2 separate regions of the Homo sapiens genome follow, and region 1 is linked to region 2. The links come from fine-mapping of genetic effects on plasma protein levels. A gene starts in region 2. The other region holds a variant in brackets. All regions are shown on one strand. Distances are from middle to middle.

Evidence for each region. PIP is the posterior inclusion probability: the model's chance that the variant is causal. Protein levels are from antibody-based Olink assays in UK Biobank. Linkage for the fine-mapping came from a reference panel and not from the study's own genotypes, which makes the PIPs less certain.
Region 1: its variant is fine-mapped to the plasma level of the SERPINI1 protein (UK Biobank, PIP above 0.99). The variant lies in the coding sequence of SERPINI1. If it changes the protein, the assay may bind it differently, which can mimic a change of level.

The regions. Positions count from the first base shown.
Region 1 is chr3:167,792,636-167,798,020 of GRCh38, forward strand. It overlaps SERPINI1 (serpin family I member 1), which reads left to right. Exons shown (of 9, transcript NM_001122752.2): 4 at 1-149; 5 at 1,985-2,189. Among named protein-coding and RNA genes, the nearest start is that of SERPINI1, 60 kb to the left of the region's middle. The variant G/A (reference allele first, on the strand shown) is at 2,146.
Region 2 is chr3:167,732,616-167,738,000 of GRCh38, forward strand. SERPINI1 (serpin family I member 1) reads left to right here and starts at 3,106. Exons shown (of 9, transcript NM_001122752.2): 1 at 3,106-3,208. PDCD10 (programmed cell death 10) reads right to left here and starts at 2,277. Exons shown (of 9, transcript NM_007217.4): 1 at 2,047-2,277; 2 at 1,599-1,735. RefSeq lists a silencer at 1,909-2,038 and an enhancer at 2,089-2,528.

The sequences.
Region 1 (5,385 bases), 60 kb after region 2:
TTATCTGGCCCTCATTAATGCTGTCTATTTCAAGGGGAACTGGAAGTCGCAGTTTAGGCCTGAAAATACTAGAACCTTTTCTTTCACTAAAGATGATGAAAGTGAAGTCCAAATTCCAATGATGTATCAGCAAGGAGAATTTTATTATGGTAAGACATTTTTTGCTTTTATTTCTCTCTTCTTGCAGAATATCAACAGATTTCTAAGAAAAACATGAAGCATTCATATTCAAACTCCTTGTCAATCTAATTTGGGCTACAATTCAATTTTTTGGCTCCATTTTAAAAACCCTCTAATTAGTTTCTGAGTAAATATTATATTCATTGATGGTTTCCAGAGTATTTTCAAATTTATAAGTCAACCACACCTGCAGAGTAGCTTTATTCATCTGAAAATACCTGACATTGTGTGAGAATGTTCTGATTTACTCCAAAAACTCATTGGGTTTAGGATGGGTTTTAGTGAACCATATGTTCCACGAAGCACTTGATTTAGGCTCTGCACCACTTTTTAAATTACAAACATTCTTCTTATACAAAGACTTTTAAAAAAATTTGATTTTAGACATGTGTATGTATGGCCAAACATAATTGTTTGTTTATGCTTTAATTTATTGAGAGCCTATAATTTTTAATATAATTCAATATCTTTGGCATTATTTTCAAAGGTGTTTTATTGGACTCTTCAGAAGTTTAGGGTATTAGTCCTTCTTATCCACTATATTGACTTGTAATAATTTGTTAAGTCATAATCAGAAAGGTAATTTTTAGCCAGGTATATGTTAGTACTAGTAGTTTTATTCTATTAAAAGCACAGTACAGGCCAGCTGCTGTGGCTCATGCCTGTAATCCCAGTACTTTGAGAGACAGAGGTAGGAGGATTCCTTGAAGCCAGGAGTTCGGACTAGCTTGGGCAACACAGCAAGACCCTTTCTCTACAAATATATATATATATATATATATTTTTAATTAGCTAGGCATAATGGTACATACCTATAGTCCTAGCTACTTGGGAGGCTGAAGGAGGAAGATCACTTGAGCCCAAGAGTTTGAGGCTGCAGTGAGCTATGATCACACCACCGCACTCCAGCTTAGGTGGCAGAGCAAGACCCTGTCTCTAAAATTATATACATACAGGTTTTATATGTAGATAAAACTATATATACTGTGTGTATATATATATAGTTCATTTTGGCCATATGTATGTGTGTGTGTGTGTGTGTGTGTGTGTGTGTGTTAATTTGGCTAAGTTCATAGAGCACAAAGCCAATTGCCTCATTTACCTAATTACCTAATTTGGAGATATCAATATTCACAAATATAATAGCTAAATATTATACAATGCTTAGATTTCATTTTGACTCTGCAAACTTTGCTTTAAAACTTGTAGTTTTTGTGATAATAAAGTGCCAGGTATTAAATGGTCAAATTTTCCCTTCTTAAAAATCAGGTGAATATTGATCAATGTGCTTTGCAGTCAACTTGGAGCCAAGGCTTTATTTTTCTAACCAGGGCTTTTCATTGTTTCTAATGCTACACTTCAGATATATTGAATTATCTCATTTAAAAATAAAAATCAAGTCTTGAATACATGTTATTATAAATGTGAAATAATTCTGTGGATTCTAAAATAAAATAAATTATACAGGGCTGTGAACTTATTTGAATTTTAGGGCCTATTTTCAAATAAACCTGCTTTTTATCAGATGCTTGAATTTCTTTATATTCTATATACTATTTGGGAAGAAACATATATAACAAATTTAAACCTTTTTATTTATTTTTTTTTAGATTTTATTTCAATACTTTTGGGGAACAAGTGTTTTTGGTTACATGAAAAACTTCTTTAGTGGTGATTTGTGAGATTTTGTTGCACAAGTACCTGAGCAGTGTACACTATACCAAATATGTAGTCTTTCATCTCTCGCCCCCAGCTTTTTTTAAGCTTTGATAGGCATCTTTTATGGCCTTTATTTTCTTTTTAGGGGAATTTAGTGATGGCTCCAATGAAGCTGGTGGTATCTACCAAGTCCTAGAAATACCATATGAAGGAGATGAAATAAGCATGATGCTGGTGCTGTCCAGACAGGAAGTTCCTCTTGCTACTCTGGAGCCATTAGTCAAAGCACAGCTGGTTGAAGAATGG[G/A]CAAACTCTGTGAAGAAGCAAAAAGTAGAAGTATACCTGCCCAGGTATGAGGTTCCTGTGTCACCCGTCCCACAGCATGGACGATGGGCTATCAATGAAAATCTGACCCAGAAAAACTCTTCGAACTGCTTTCGAATTATAATTCTTGTGCCACTCTCTTCTTATTCTTGTTCTTCTCCTTCTCTTTCTCCTTCTCCTTCTTCTTTGATTTTCTTCTTTTTAGTATTCTTTCATAGTCATTTCTTTCATACTCATGTGGTCCTTCCCGTAGACACATGCTCACTTATTGGTTCATTCGGTGCTATTCATCGAGACCTAGTTTCAGATATAATTCAGTGTTCTTGTCTTTGTTTTAGAAAATTTATCTATCTGTTTTGTCTGAATATCATTTGCATTGACAGTCTTCTGTATTTTATTAACACTTAAGATTGATTATGACTGGAGAGGAAACAATCTCTGACATTGCTAGAAGAACTGCAAGCAAGTCACTGTGCTAGGTGCTGAGATGCAACCATAAATTAGCAGGAAGATGCAACTCTGCTCAAAATTCTCCCTGTGGCTAAAAGAATAAGATGCACACAATGCCTTTGATGTCCTGAATGCCATCCCCTTCTCAACCCCATTTCTGGCCACTCACCACATCAAGCATGTTGTAGCATGTTCTGTCCATGTACTTGTGATTATGCCACGTACATCATGCTCTTTTCATGTCTCTGAATCTCCACTTATGTTCTTGCATTGGCCTAAACTGCCCTCCTCATATTTCTTTCCCAAGATAGTGTTGCTTAGCCTTCAGGGTACACCTCTAGAACCAGTTCTTCTCTGAAGCCTCCCATGGAACTACCTGGAGCAAGTTACCCTCATTTTTGCTTCACTTATACACCTTTCTGTTATTACTTGTTACCATCCCATAATAACATTATCTTTTTGTAGGGCTAGTTTTCTTTCTGTAAGTTCTAGGGTAGAGCCAGTTTTCCTTCCTGTAGAAAGAACACAGTAAGTGTTTACAAAATGAAACTGAACTGAAAATGTTTATTCTATCCTTGAATACCTTAAAACCTAGTAGGAAAACTAGGCCAGTAAACACGTAGAACATGTTTATTAGCATACTATGTAAATTTTAGTCTAGAAAACAAGACATATCAATAAAAACAGATTAAATATATACGTATGTATGTACGTGAAAGTACAGTTAAAACACATTCCATATTAAGAAAATTGTTCAAGTATGATTAATTACTGTGAGCATTAAGGTGATAAATGAGTTATTAGTATTAAAGATGAATTATTAATAACTGATTAACCCATTCATATTTATTCTAATTTTAGGAATTATCATTTAAGGATTACATTTTATGTAAATATCAATGTTTCTAAAAACTTAGCTGATAGTTTGTTATGTAAGTGAAGGAGATCTATTTGGAACTATGGAGTTTTTGCCTGGAAAATTGTTTTATAATATATTCATAATATGGAATATTATGTTATGTCATAATTTATTATATAGCATGTCATGTTATATATTCATAATATATAACTATAAATATATAGCCATATATTTTCTATTTTTTATATTTTATTTTATTTTAAGGTCTGGTATATATGTGCAGAATGTGCAGGTTTGTTACATAGGTAAACGTGTGCCATGGTAGTTTGCTGCACCTATCAACTCATCACCTAGGTATTAAGCCTTGCATGCGTTAGCTATTTATCCTGATACTCTCCCTCCCCGCAACCCCCTGACAGGCCCCAATGTGTGTTGTTCCCCTCCCTGTGTCCATGTGTTCTAATTGTTCAGCTCCCACTTATAAGTGAGAACATGCACTGTTTGGTTTTCTGTTCCTGTGTCAGTTTGCTGAAGATAATAGCTCCCAGCTCCATCCATGTCCCTGCAAAGGGCATGATCTCATTCCTTTTTATGGCTGCATAGTATTCCATGGTGTATATGTACAACATTTTTTTTTTATCTGGTCTGTCCTTGATGGGCATGGCATTTTGGGTTGATTCCATGTCTTTGCTATTGTGAATAGTGCTGCAATGAACATATGTGTGCATGTATCTTTATAATAGAATGATTTGTAATCCTTTGGGTATATACCCGGTAATGGGATTGCTGGGTCAAATGGTATTTCTGGTTCTAGATCTTTGAGGAGTCACTGTCTTCCACAATGGTTGAACTAATTTACATTTCCACCAACAGTGTAAAAAAGTTCCTTTTTCTCCACAGCCTTGCCAGCATGTGTTGTTTCTTGACTTTTTAATAATTGCCATTCTGACTGGCATGAGATGGTATCTCACTGTGGTTTTGATTTGAATTTCTCTAATGTTCAGTGATGTTGAGCTGTTTTTCATGTTTGTTGGCTGCATACATGTCTTCTTTTGAGTCATGTTGTTCATGCCATTTGCCTACTTTTTAATGTGATTGTTTACTCCTTGTAAATTTTCTTATAGATTCTGGATATTAGACCTTTGTCAGATGGATAGATTGGAAGAATTTCCTCCCTTTCTGTAGGTTTTCTGTTCACTCTGATGATAGTTTCATTGCTGCGCAGAAGCTCTTTAATTTAATTAAATCCCATTTGTTAAGTTTTGCTTTTGTTGCAATCGCTTTTGATGTTTTTCTCATGTAATCTTTGCCTGTGTCTGTGTCCTGAATGGTATTGCCTAGGTTTTCTTCTAGGGTTTTTATAGTTTTTGGTTTTACATTTAAGTCTTTAATCCATCTTGAGTTAACTTTTGTATAAGGTGTAAGGAAGGGATCCAGTTTCAATTTTCTGCATATGGCTATATATAGCCACATATTTTCTTGTCTATATACAAAAGTCAAGGCAATCATAACCCAAATCCTTTTGGCTAAGATATTTAGCATGCATAACTTTCTGTGACAATACATATATGTAGAAATATTCCATTATAAGTCTATTCTTAAGGAGAGGTAGTTAATGAATACCTACCAAGCGTTTTTTTTTTATGTATGATAATTGACATTTATATACTAAATATATAAACAATGTACCTTAATTCCAAAGAACAATTTACTTTTGAACATGAATGATTAAATTTAAATTACTATGTAAATCAGGCCTAAAGTTATAAAACATTTAGTCTATGTTGGCCCTCATCTAATGACCTTTCACAATTAATTTTGTATTTTTTCTTGCATTTTATGAAGAATTCTTTTTGATAAAATGAGAAATTCAGTACAGTGTTAATGCTTCTCTTATTAAATCCATGAATTAA
Region 2 (5,385 bases):
AAAGAGTAGTGGCAGAAATGAACCAAGAACAAAATCTAAAACACACTGAACAAATGCATTACATTAACTAATTTCCAAAATTTCCTCATAGTTCAAAAGCTCTTTCCATAATGACAGAGTTACATGCCAAAGGTTAGAACTTATTTCATACCTCCTTCAACAAAAGGCAAATACCTACATTGTCATCTAGAAAACAGATTAATATTCTTGCTTTACCATCACTGACTCATGTTCAGTTTACGGTCTACTTACATCACTGCACCTTTCTTAATCCAGCACAAAGTCAGTTATCACCACATAATTTTCCATTTGTTTAACTGGGTCTTCCTTGTCTGTGTACTACATTACTTATGGTACATTATTCCTGATTTTACTTCATTCTATAGTATCATACTTTTTCTATTTTAAAAATCGTATTAATTTCCAGACCATCTTAATTTCAACCATCAGGGAAGATAATACCTCTGTTCCGAAAAAATGTTTTTCCATTAAAAAGTGAAGCACATTGTTGATAATATAGTAACTGCAGAGTACATTCAAAATTCAGCATAGTCTGATGATCAACTTATATATAAAACAGTAAGCTATGATTTATTACATGTTAAGAGTAAGCCATGATTTATTACATGCTAACCTGTATGGATATAAAGTTATCACAAATAAATTCTGCCATCAATGAACATACTCTAACAATTCTATTAAAAACTTATCCAATAATAATAGTCATGAGCTATAACTGGTCATAATCATTATAGAGGATAAGACTTGCATAAAGGCACTACTTTCTGCAAGATATGAACTATACGTGTACTGTTTTTTCATTCTTCAATGTAAAGTAAGAATGAATTGAAAGTCACAGTTGATGCTAAGAAAAATAAAAATATGCAAGAGCCCAATTTTATTATTTGCAGACACACACACAAATACAGCCCAGAGTCAAGAAAATGGGGGAAAAGTAAAGTCTCAAAAAAGACGATGTTACCTCCAAGAAATGCAAAATACCTTCTTTTCTAGTAATGGGCACACTAAACTCTCCTAACGCTACATTATTTGAAAAAAGTGTAGTTTTGTGAAAGAATTCCAATCCCACTATTATCAGTTTTACAAAATGAGAGTAAAAACAGTCCTAAGGTAGAAAAAGAAAAGAATATTCTTCTAAGGATGGGATATATTGTTTAACTGTTGTTCTCCCATCCTATTACCTACCCGTAAAAATGAACTGTGAGAGTAGAGTCTATCATTTAATACACCCCTAAAAAAAGGGGAAAAATCTGTAAAAGTTGAAACTGGCCATTTTTATTTTTTCCAAAAGGATCTTTCCTTTATTGAGGAATTTCACTCCGGTTCAAGAAACAACTTTTTATCTCACAATGGCTTCTTAGATATACTATATAAAATACATTTACTTTGTAACTTCCTCCACCCTTTTCAAAAAGCACAACCAACGTCCCTACTCTAAAGCTGGACTCGAACCGAACTAGATTCAGAAAGTCTGTCCCTACGTGTGTGACCTTGGGCACGTCATATAATCCCTCGGTTTCCTCATCAGCATCCCAAAATGAAAGCGCTCTGAAAGCAGTAAAGGAGTAAAAACATACCTTAGGTATGACACCTAAGAGGGTCAAGTCTTTCTGTTTAAGGCAAAATTATCTCCTTAGAGGGCCACATCATTAAACTGGAACTGAATCCGTAGACCCCAACATTTGTCTCTTCCTTCTTCCAGTGCTCCTCTTCCCTCAAAGGGCATAACCCGAGTCACCCCCAAGAGCCGACTCCCAAGCACCCTTTCCTTCCTCCTCCCTTTTCTCTTACTTACAAAGCAGGGGGAAAACAGCAGCCTCACCTCTCGGTCCGAAGCCACACCTTCAAAGGACCCCACCCCAGGCACATCCGCCCTGTCCCCTCTCCCGGGGCACCAGGGGCCAACCTCGCCCTTCCCCTCCCGCCCCCACCTAGAGGAGACTTCCTGGAGGCGTTCGGGCCCAAGCCGGCAGGCGGCATTTACAAACCCGCTTTACGCCACTCGCGTAGGGTAACCTCGCTTACGCCCGTAGGGCCCCGCTCTCAGCCCCGTCCGCTCCGCCTGCCAGAACCAAGCCCAAGTGCCTCAGCCATGGCCCCTGCGTGACCCTAGACCTCTTCTGCTCGGTGCAGAGCTACGGGGACTGGGACAGAACAGCTACACCTTACCAGCAACTGAGGCACTGACTTCACTTCCCACCTTGCAGCCCTCTTCAACTCCCGGATCAATTCACTCCGGCGACGCCGGAAGGACCCAAGAGGAACCAGGCGTTGTCCGGAATCCTGCCCAGCCGGAGTCGTGCAGAGGCTTATGGGGACTCGTAGTCCCGCTCGCCGGCGTTGTCCGCAATTCCTGCAATCGGAAGACTACACTTCCCGGCAGGCCATGCGGGGGATCCTGAGGCGATGGGTGGTGACACTTCTAGCCAATAGTAGGAGAATTCCCTGCCTTTGCGGGAGGAGGTGAGATGAAGAGAGATGGTGCACGGAAAGGAGAGGAAGGGCGGGGCAAGCCCTCACCTGCGCCAATCAGGGTGCGGAGTAGGCCCCGCAGGCGCCTCACCCATTGAGGGGGCGGGCTGACAGAGCAGAGGAAGGAAGGGGGTGAGGGGCCTGTGGTGGGGATCCTGGGGCTGTCGGGCTGAGTATGCCGTGTGGGTGGAGAGGAAGCCTCGGGGAAATCGCCCAGGTGAAGGGAGGGCTTGGTGTGGGGACTTGCACTGGGCAGAGGGGCAGCTTCCCTGAGAGCAGCTAAGCCCCAGGCACACCGGGCATCCGGACACACAGGTCGGGGAAGGATAGGCTGAGCCGGGGCTCCCAGCAGAGACGCCTGGGTGGGGCAGGAGGCCGCTCCAGGTGTGAGCCACAGAGGAGGGGAGAGGGACCCCCACGGGAGTGGAAGTGGCAGAGCAGCTGCAGAAGTGCAGGGAGCGGAAAGGTACCAGGGCAGCTGCTTTCCGCTGCCTCCGGTCCGGGCAGCTGCAGAAACAGCAGGGGGAGGAGCAACAGCTGCCAAATTCGCCAACTAGAGGAGGGAGAGGCGGAGCTTGGGTCCCTGTAGAAGCCAGAGGCGCAGTCTGGACTGTAGTTTCCCGGGAGAGACGAAAGCAGGAACGAGAGCGGAGCGGAGCACAGTCCGCCGAGCACAAGCTCCAGCATCCCGTCAGGGGTTGCAGGTGTGTGGGAGGTAAGCGTGGGTCCTTCTTCGGGGCGTCTGCACTGCCCTGGAGAAAACGTCTTCCAATAGGAATTACATCAAGACACAGCTAAAAGAGTCCGCGTTGGGTTAGGAAACCGGTGCAAAACCTCTCGGGTGAAAGATTTACATTTTTCGACTTTAAGGGCAAAAAAGCAAAAGGAAGCTTGACTCTGGGTATAAAGGGCGTGGTTAGTGTTTTTGGTTTGAGTTGCACCAGTAAAACTGTTCTGGGAGATCTGAAGATTGAGAAAAATCCTGCTAATTGAGGACGAGGTGGATGTTATCTGGTGGATGTTATAGGTGCGTAGCCTATAAAAAGCAAAAATTTTGCTATTGATATAGAATAACTTCTGAACTATTTCACTAGGAAAATAACTTTGCATTCTTCTTCAGTGTCTACCCTTTACGTTGGTTTATCAGATTGTCCTGCTACCGACCTGTTATCCAGGGTGGTTATTTTGCAGTTTCCTAGAATTGCAAGAAATCCGTATTAAAGAAGCAAGTGCAGGCAGGAATAGTCAGGATAGGATGGGCTCTGACTTAATCTATCAAAAGTATAACTTTTGCCAGCAATAATGTAAAAATGAATTTTAATGAATGGATAGTTAGCTTTCTTCCCAGTGGCTCTGGAATATTGGAACAAAGACCTGGATTCAGCCTACAATGGAAACATATGGTGTACCTCACTGCTGCTCGTTAGTTTCTCATTTGTGTCCGATAATATGTGTACATTTTAAAAACGAGTACATGGAAAGCTGTGTGGGAATCTTTTCTCTGGGTAGAGAGTATGTGCTGAAGGACTACCCTTAATATGTGTTATGATAGTGGGTTCAGTTTAAAACACATGTAGTGTCATAAAATAATAGTTTATTCTCGGTATTAAACTATATGTGCATTCAAAGCAACGTTAATTGTAATACCTATGGATGGAAATAAGTTGTAATGCTGGGTAAAGATGAAAGTCTCACCTACCTTTGTGTAATTATGACAAAATTACAGCCTTTTATTTTTAGAGAAGTAGTAAGAAGCTATTTTCCTAGTTCATTTTCATTTTGTTACAGAGGTTCCCAGATTACATGGCTTTTAATCATAGTAGCATATTGCAGCAAATTTTGCTCTGAAATGCTTTCATTGTGACAGTTGCATATTTCAGAGTCTGTCTCAATACTTTATGTTTTTTTTTAATAACCAGGGTCAATAAAATGGAGTAATTGTCTTGTTTTCTCCTATTTCTATGCTTTCCTGAGTTCTCGGGATTTTAAATTTTATTTTTGTAATGCATCCCAAATTTCTTTTTGAAAAGAAATGGCTCAAATGAATTCTCTTCCCAGATTAAAGTTCAGTCCTACTGAGTGCTACTACCGATAAGCCTAAGTGACTTTTCAGTGTGTATACTCTTCCCTCCCACACTCTCACATACCATAGAAATATATAGACAGATAGATCATAGAAAAACAGCTGCTTTTTAATTACCCCTAAGCAAATCAGCTAAGTATCAAAAACAGCAAAGAGCTTAGAAGAAAGAAAAAGCAACAGTAGCTGCTAAACTTAACCACTATAAGGATCAGGTTTTATCTTTGCTACAGCACTGGAGAATCTATTAATTCACATAGCTGATATGGCCCTGTGAAAATGATTTTGGGGGTAAAAAAAAAAGTGGGTATTAGGGTGACACATGGAAAAGACTGTGTTTGCCCTTGTTATTTGTGATTAAGTGGATTGTCTTGAATCAGTCTTAGATTCTTTCTCAGACCCTACTACTAATTCATTTTGTAAAACTGAATAATTGCTGTCGCTGGGTTATTTCCCCTATGTAATAATTATAATACTACCAATGAAATTCTTTCCGAGCCTTTATTAAAAGATCTGTTTGAAAGAGTTTTATTGGGAAACAGTTAATAAGCAAGCAAATGGATAGAAGATAAATATCTAAACAGTTGAAATTAAGATATACTTTGAATCTCAGCTCTTTATAGGTCTTCTGCTCTGAGACACGGTAAAGGATAGAATCTGATTAGGAATGAATGAGTTTGTGGTATTAAAGTACTGATTTTTTTCACCTGTTTCCAAGATTTGGATCCTTTTTACTGTGTCAGTAAAAGAGATTGGGTTTCAATATCATTTGAAAAAAGACCATGTTTTTATATGAGAGAATATCATTGGAA